Regions from separate parts of the Homo sapiens genome. Here region 2 is reported to be linked to region 1. Evidence: microRNA targets listed by miRTarBase, many of them from high-throughput screens and not tested one by one. Region 1 holds a microRNA gene; the other region holds the end of a gene's coding sequence.
The links. The annotated mature microRNA hsa-miR-30c-2-3p reads CUGGGAGAAGGCUGUUUACUCU and lies in region 1 at 2,071-2,092, opposite strand. An mRNA with a match to its seed (bases 2 to 7 or 8) in the 3' UTR can be bound and repressed. Matches are read on the target gene's strand: a 7mer-m8 pairs with bases 2 to 8, a 7mer-A1 pairs with bases 2 to 7 and ends in A, and an 8mer does both.

Region 1 (4,540 bases):
CCATGAATATTTTGAAGCCCCCTCATATATATATTTATATATATAAATACATATATAAATATATATAAACATATATAAATATATATAAATATATATAAATATATGTAAATATATAAATATATGTAAATATATATAAATATATATATAAATATATATAAATATATATAAATATATATATAAATATATATAAATATATATAAAAATATATATAAATATATATATAAATATATATAAATATATATAAATATATAAATATATAAATATATATATATAACTTCTCAAGCATGCTTAATAATCCTACTTACTCATGTCACAAAACAGGCTAGTTAACAACTAGAACATATCTAGAAGAATAATACTAAACAAAAACCAAAATTATATAGCTTTATATCAAAGTTTTCCATAGTCAATGAAAGAAATATTCTGGAATATTTAAATACACTTGGTTTTGGAGGACAAGGCAATAAAAAGATTGAATAAAATTAGATATTTTACATAGATACACAAGATGTTTATATTTTGACACATTATATATTTTCTTGTAAGTTCCATGAGAAAAAGGACTTTGTTTCTGTTCTCTGCTATATCCCCTGTGCCTAGAAGTTCACATAGTAGATGCTCAATAAATAATTCTTGAATGATGAATGAATTTCAGCATGTATTTCAATAAGCTTTGAAACACCTACATTCATGACTAAAAGTTAACCATAAATTTAGATCTGGAATATTTGAATGTCCCCCCTTTTAATTTAGGCAGAATAATAAAATGCTATGGCAAAGCATATGCATCATTCTCTGCTGCTTAGAGTTGCTTTTCCCCTTACCCATATTATCTGCCTCTCCTAGCAGAAAGCAAAATTTCAAACATCTATAACAATTATTTCTTTGAGAAGACTGTAGAGCATTGTTTCAAAGAGGGTTTTCTTAAGCCTGTAGGCAAACCTAAAAAGGTAAATGACTCAATCAAGCTGGCACTTCAACAGTGTCTACCACTGCTTCAAGGCCAGCCTGTTCAAATACTTCCCTGAAATCACATGCTAAAGTCATTGTATTTAAACTTTTTTTCTATAAACTCATATGAAACAATTACTCCTATTGTATTAGGCTCTACAGTCAGTGCGGAGGTAAAATTAAAAGCTCCTCTAATACTTCTAAAGTAGTAGAGTGTCTTTTAGTTTAAATGACTGATATATGCTGATATGCCAAGACTAGAGTAATTTTGTTCAGATTTGTTTAATTTTTAATAGAAGCATTAAGTTAATTATTTAACTTCTTAAGGGCTTGTTATATAAAAATATGCCTTATTTAAATATTCTCTTTAACAAGAAGGCTTATTTCATAATAATTTTAAATAAATCAGCAATGGACTCAAATTTCAGGTAAGTTACATTCTAGATTAGATGTTTAATAGACCTTTGATTTAAACGATTTACATGAAAGAGTTTTTCTGGTTAAGGCTGAACTTATGAGTTCGTTCTGTAGATTTTTCTTAAAATTAACTTCTTGCATCCCATCCCTTACCTCTACATTTTCCTTCCTCTCCCGTCCTCCAACAACAATTCTATTTTTTCCTGAAATGTGTAACTATATTCTAGCTTTAAAGAGCAGACCTTATTGTTTGCCATTACAATTCCTAAAGCATGGGGCTCCAAGGTGCCTTTGATCCCTGATAAAATAGCAAGTCCAAGGACACTAGAATTTTTGCTTCAAGAAAAGCAGACTTCAGTGTGGAATGCTCTCAGGTTAAAGGAGAAATGTTTAGCTTAACGTATAGGTAATGTGTTGCTTTTACAGATCAGACTGCAGCAACCCACAAAATGTAGCCTCATACAAGTTAACCAGAACTTTTGTCACTTGGGTATTTGGTAATCTTTTTTTTCTTTTTAAACTAAGTGAAACAGTTCAAATATAACTGATATTATAGATTATCTTACATTTCTTTGGATGACTTAGTCAATTCACCTTTTTTCCTTTTACAGTTGACCTCAGAAACAAACACGGGATAGGATCAATTCTAAGACATAGAAATATTCAAAATCCATTTCTCTTTAGTTGACTTCCAAGGCAGAAAGAGTAAACAGCCTTCTCCCAGCTTTCTTACTTTCCACAGCTGAGAGTGTAGGATGTTTACAGTATCTGTCGCTCAGTGCTCTCTAGGATGGGGTTGGCAGTCAGCAGCACAAGCCTCAGGAAACCCAGTACCATTTGAAGATACCATAATATGTCACAGGAAAAGATCAGAAAAGTATACTTGGGACTAAATTATGGCTCTTTTAGGAGTAGGGTTGGAAGGGTGGGTGGGGAGGCTATATGACACTTACTTAGTGCTGCCTGCTCAGTTCTTGTTTTCTTCCTGTTTTGCACATCCTAAGATATTCCTAAGGTCTCTAGCTTTGAGCTTGCACACTCACGGATTTGGTTAATTTTGGATTTTCAATATTCTATGCTTTCCCAAAAGGGTTTCAAAATATTCGCCAAACTCCTTCCTTAAACAGTACATAATCCCTTTCTGACTGTTGGGAGACATGAAATGCAGCTTCTCACTCTCTGGGCTATACAACTTTGTTTCAGCTCACTCCTGCACAGAACTGAGAATAATGGCTAAACAGAAGACCAACAGTTTAATTACTGAAAATTAGTTACCTTAATGATGGGATACACAGTAATAAATTTAATCAAATGAGCAAAAAGTAAATATGTTAGAATACAACTTTACATGCATAAAAATGGTATATTGCAAATTGCTAATATAATGCTAAAATTATTTTAAAAATTCATATTCGGACAGAAGTGAACCTACAATTAGAGGCATACACATGAATGGAGTCAGTTGCTTCCTAAAGTTATTTTCTAAGAATGACTTATTCAAATAGTTCTTGGACTTCATTTGCTAAACTGGTCTAAGGTACACAAAATACTTGGGCGAAGAAGAAAGTCATCATTACTATACATCTCAGAACAAACCTACCTGATAAGAGACTACACTGTAAACCCAGGTGGCATATAATTCCAAACTGTTACAGGATCTTACTCATTTCATTCATTCATTCATTCATTCAACAAACAATTGTGACTGCCTGCCATATATCAGCAATGTTTTAAATTCTAGGTGATGAGAAATGAAGGGTATCATCCCTACCTTCGAGAAGGACACAGCTTAATTTGCAAGACAGACACATACACCATTACTATAAGTGTTATGATGGGTCAAAAGACACTTCTGAGTTGGCTAATAGCCAGGCTGAGTCTTGAAGCCTGAATAAAATTAGCTAGGTGAAGATGGTGCTAATGGGAATTTGGAAGGGGTGGGCAGTGAAGAAGATAGTGTAGCTTAAAGTGTACCAGAAAGAACAGTCATCCAATAGAGAAAGAAAGACAAAGGTAATGTATGCTGAGGCCTTTAAGAATTCAGCAGAGGTGGAGTCAAAGATGCATGTGGGTGAAGGGTAAGGGGAGAGACACAAGGGAAAGATGGGAGTCCTTATGTGCCAGGTTAAAGGGTTTGGGCATTATCTCCAAACGATGGGTACGAGTGAAAGATAGTAAGCAGGCAAGTGGGATGACCATGTCAGTACTTTAGAGAATTTACTCTAGCTTTAAGGTGGCAGGTAAGGAAAACAGGAAAAGAATCACTGCAGTAGTGTAAGGGAGAGCATGGGAGCCTTAATTAGGGAAGAGGCAGTAAGAACACAGAGAAAATGAATATGAGAAATTATAAAGACAAGAAGAACAGCAGAATTCAGTGAGTGAGTAGCTGAGGGGAGAGGCACTGTGGAGATGGAGAAGTCATGGGTAATTCACAAGCCTGGCTTGGGCTTCATAAGGCCTTTCATGCAGGAGGGAAAGAATAGGAAGAGAAGTGGAGAAGGAAAGAGCCCTAAGAATGATAACTTGAATGGGCTGGGCTGCAAAGTTATGACCCCATGCTCATTGAATACTGAATTCTGTCACAACTGAAAGGGTGAAAACACTTGAAGAACTAAATCACACAAACCTGTTCTTTATTCTGTTTCTGCACTTCTGCTTACTCTTCTACCTGGCAAGTGCCCATACAGTCTTCAAATCCCAAATCAAGTATTCTCTCTTGTGAATCCTCTCTGGTCAGCGTCATCCCTAACACCCACACCCCTCCCCCAACCTGAGGAGGAATTGTTCATTTTTCCTTTTACCACCATTATACTGTGCCTAGGTCACATAATTGCATATGCCTAGATCACAGAACTGATACTTTATTACAATTATTTGTTTACCTATCCATCTCTCTACTAGGGAAGAAACACCATGTTTCGTTTAACTTAACTTCATTTCATCAGAAGAAATTCACAACATGTATCCAGGGTTTGTCTGGTACTAAAGGAGGTTCTCAGTGAAGGTTTGATGAATGAATGAATGAATGAATGAATGATGCCATCTACCACCTGACAATGGGTTAACAATGTTAAGATGATTATTCAGGTTTTAAAAATCTCTAAATAAAAAATATTTACCAGTTTCTAAAACTTTGTTTTTATTCCCCCAAAATTCAAGGTTAGGCTGTTTT
Region 2 (4,048 bases), not on the chromosome of region 1:
TTCGAGACCAGCCTGCCCAATATGGGGAAACCCTGGTCTCTACTAAAAATACAAAAATTAGCTGGGTGTGGTGGCGCATGCCTGTAATCCTAGCTACCTGGAAGGCTGAGGCAGGAGAATCACTTGAACCTGGGAGGCGGAGGTTGCAGTGAGCCGAGGTTGGGCCACTGCACTCCAGCCTGGGCAACAGAGCAAAACTCTTTCTCAAAAACAAAAAAAAACTGTAGACTGAACTTCACCCACTGAAAAAAAGTTATATGAACTGGAAATTTCTTCAAATTGTAATATCAGTATGGAAAAGAAATATTATCTCAAATTTCAAATTCACAGAGGTCACTTTATTATTTTGCCATGTTTAACATTCACTCTTAAAGTAGAAGATTCTGCATAGAAATTAAGTTACACTACATTACAGAAAAGTAAATTTAAAATTCTTTACTTACCATTAGAACTCCTAAAATTTTGATTTCTAAAATATATTCTCTAGCAAATTTTGTATTTGCTACACGTTGTATAAAAATCTAGGCCAGGCGCAGTGGCTCACGCCTGTAATCCCAGCACTTTGGAAGGCCGAGATGGGCGGATCATGAGGTCAGGAGATCGAGCCCCTCCTGGCTAACACGGTGAAACCCCGTCTCTACTAAAAATACAAAAAATTAGCTGGGCGTGTTGGCGGGCGCCTGTAGTCCCAGCTACTCAGGACACTGAGGAAGGAGAATGGCGTGAATGTGGGAGGCGGAGCTTGCAGTGAGCCGAGATCGTGCCACTGCACTCCAGCCTGGGGGACACAGCGAGACACTGTCTCAAAAAAAAAAAAAAAAATTAAACAGATTTCAACAAGAAAAAATAATAAAAATTTAACCTACGGAAACAGTATTTTTTAAACTTATTTGCAGTTGAAAGCCACTGGCAAAGGAGATTACCAGAGATGTTAGTTGATTACATTACCAAATAGTATATTCTTACTATCATTTACCTACACCTTTGAGTAAATGGGATAGGTTTCAGTTAGTGGCATAATAATGCTTCATTGAATGCACAATAGTATTAACATGTTAAAAATGTATAATGAAACAAGTTCACACATCATCTGAAAATTTAAAAATGTACTGCATTTTATTACATAAAAGTACAAATAGTAAAATAACGTACTAATTTTTTAATTTTAACAAAACTTAAATGTTCTTACTATAATGCAAAAGAATATTACTCTAAACACCTACCTCATGCACCACTCAATATCATAATTAACCACAAATACCATCTCCACTTAGATTTTCATCATGCATGTTACATTTTAATGTCCTTACTCTTCCAAAGAAAAGGTCATAAATAATGCCCACCTAAAAAAAAAGAAACTCTCCTATCTTTGATGCCGTGACAACTGATCACATGCTTTCACATGTGAATACAATAGAAATGAAGAAATAGCATCAAGTAACTAGAGAGTTGAATCACAGCAATATTAGCTTTTTAAAAAATCTGTACTTCTTTTCAAGGAAAAAAGAACACTTTGGGCCGGGCGCTGTGGCTTAAGCCTGTAATCACAGCACTTTGGGAAGCCAAGCTGGGCAGAGCATGAGGTCAGGAGTTCAAGACTACCCTGACCAATATGGTGAAACCCCGTCCCTACTAAAAATACAAAAGTCAGCCGGACGTGGTGGTGTGCACCTGTAATCTCAGCTACTCAGTAGGCTGAGGCAGGAGAATTGCTTGAACCCAGGAGGCAGAGGTTGCAGCGAGCTGAGATTGTGCCACTGCACTCCAGCCTGGACGACAGAGAGAGACTCTGTCTCAAGGAAAACAAACAAACAAAAAAAGTATACTTTGAATGTAATTACAAACTTCCAAAAAATCTTCTACTCCTTTTAAAGTTATGTACAAATAAATTTATCTACCGTTAGTTTGGGATCATTTTTAACAGTCAGCACTTTGATATAGTGTAATGTCTGAAGCATCCATACCTTAGTTTGTTTGTTTTTGAGATGGAGTCTCACTCTGTCACCCGGCTGGAGTGCAGTGGTGCAATCTCGGCTCACTACAACCTCTGCCTCCTGGGTTCAACGGATTTTCCTGCCTCAGCGTCCCAAGTAGCTGAGACTACAGGCACGTGCCGCCACGCCCAGCTAATTTTTGTATTTTTAGTAGAGACAGGGTTTTACCATGTTGACCAGGATGGTCTCAATCTGTTGACCTCATGATCTGCCCACCTCAGCCTCCCAAAGTGCTGGCATTACAGGCGTGAGCCACCATGCCCGGCCCTACCTTAGATATTTCCACTGTGAATTCTCTGATATTTACATAGACTTATTTTGGATTAAATGTTTTAAATATATACTGCATCTGCAAAAATATATCTCAGTATGAACCCTCTGGTGTTGTCTAAGTTGTAGTTTTGGAAAACTTTTTTTTCAAATTTATTACATTTGCAGGGTTTTTCTCCAATCTGAATTCCCTGATGTTGAACAAAGTTTAAGTAACTGCTTCAGGGTTTTCTCTAGTACAAAATGTGTACAATAAGATCTGTGATACAAATAAAGGTATTACAATCCTCTTTTATTTGTAATGTTTGTCTTCAAAATAAATACTTTAAAAGCTTATATTTTCTGAAATACTTTTTGACAGTAATTAAATTTATAATACTTTTTTTAAGTACTCTCTGATGTTGAGTAAGATGTGAGCAGACATTAATGGCTTTTTCACAGTCTTTATATTGGTACAATTTTTCTCAAGTATAAATGCTTTCCTGGCAATAAGGTGTGAGTATTCATTAAAAATTTTGCCACATTCTTCACACTTGTAAGAGTTTTTCTAGTAAGAATTATCTTACCTACAATCAAGTGTGACAATCATTTAAAGATTTTGTCACATTTTTCGCATTTTTAAAGTTCCTCACCAGTATGATTTATTTTATGTTTAGAAAAGTTTGAGGTGTTGTCAGAATTACTGTGATGTCTTCCAGCTTTGTAGTTTCTCTCCAGTTTAAGTTTTTTTATGTTTAGTAAGATTTAGGGACCAGTTAAATGCTTTGCCACATTCTTTACATTTGTAGGGTTTCTCTCTAGTATGAATTATCTTTTGTTTCATAAGGATTAAGAGCCAGTTAAAGGCTTTGCCACATTTATCACATTTGTAGGATTTCTCTCCAGTATGAATTATCTTGTGTTTTAATAAAAGTTGAAAATACACTAAAGGATTTGACACATTATTTACATTTGTAGGGTTTCTCTTTGGTATGAATTCTCTTATGTTTAGTAAGGTTTGGGGACTGGTTAAAGGCTTTGCCACATTCTTCACATTTGTAGGGTTTCTCTCCAGTATGAATTATCTTATGTTTCATAAGGGTTGAGGACTGGTTAAAAGCTTTGCCACATTCTTTACATTTGTAGGGTTTCTCTCCAGTATGAATTATCTTATGTGTAGTAAGATGAGAGGACAGAATAAAGCTTTTGCCACATTCTTCACACTTATAGGGTTTCTCTCCAGTATGAATTTTTTTATGATTAGTAAAATTTGAGGAGTAGTTAAAAGTTTTGCCACATTCTTCACATTTGTAGGGTTTGTCTTCAGTATGAATTACTTTATGTTTAGTAAGGATTGAGAATATACTAAAGGCTTTACCACATTCTTCACATTTGTAGGGTTTCTTTCCAGTATGAATTACCTTATGATAAGTAAGAGTTGAGGACTTGGTAAAGGCTTTACCACATTCTTCACATTTGTAGGGTTTCTCTCCAGTATGAATTACCTTATGATTAGTAAGGTGTGAGGACCGGTTAAAAGCTTTGCCACATTCTTCACATTTGTAGGGTTTCTCTTCAGTATGAATTATCTTATGTTTAGTAAGGGTTGAAAATACACTAAAAGCTTTGCCACATTCTTCACATTTGTAGGGTTTCTCACCAGTATGAATCCTCTTATGTGTAGTAAGGTGTGAAGATAGGGTAAAGGCTTTGCCACATTCTCCACATTTGTAGGGTTTCTCTCCAGTATGAATTTTCTTGTGATTAGTAAGGTTTGAGGACTGTTTAAAAGCTTTGCCACATTC

Region 2: the mRNA of ZNF708 is a reported target of hsa-miR-30c-2-3p. The part of its 3' UTR that is shown has no 7-base or 8-base seed match.

What each region holds. Positions count from the first base shown.
Region 1 is chr6:71,374,894-71,379,433 of GRCh38, forward strand. It overlaps MIR30C2 (microRNA 30c-2), which reads right to left and starts at 2,138; the gene lies at 2,067-2,138.
Region 2 is chr19:21,290,069-21,294,116 of GRCh38, forward strand. It overlaps ZNF708 (zinc finger protein 708), which reads right to left. Exons shown (of 4, transcript NM_021269.3): 4 at 1,092-4,048. The coding sequence ends at 3,206. It also overlaps the pseudogene COX16P1. Among named protein-coding and RNA genes, the nearest start is that of ZNF708, 37 kb to the right of the region's middle.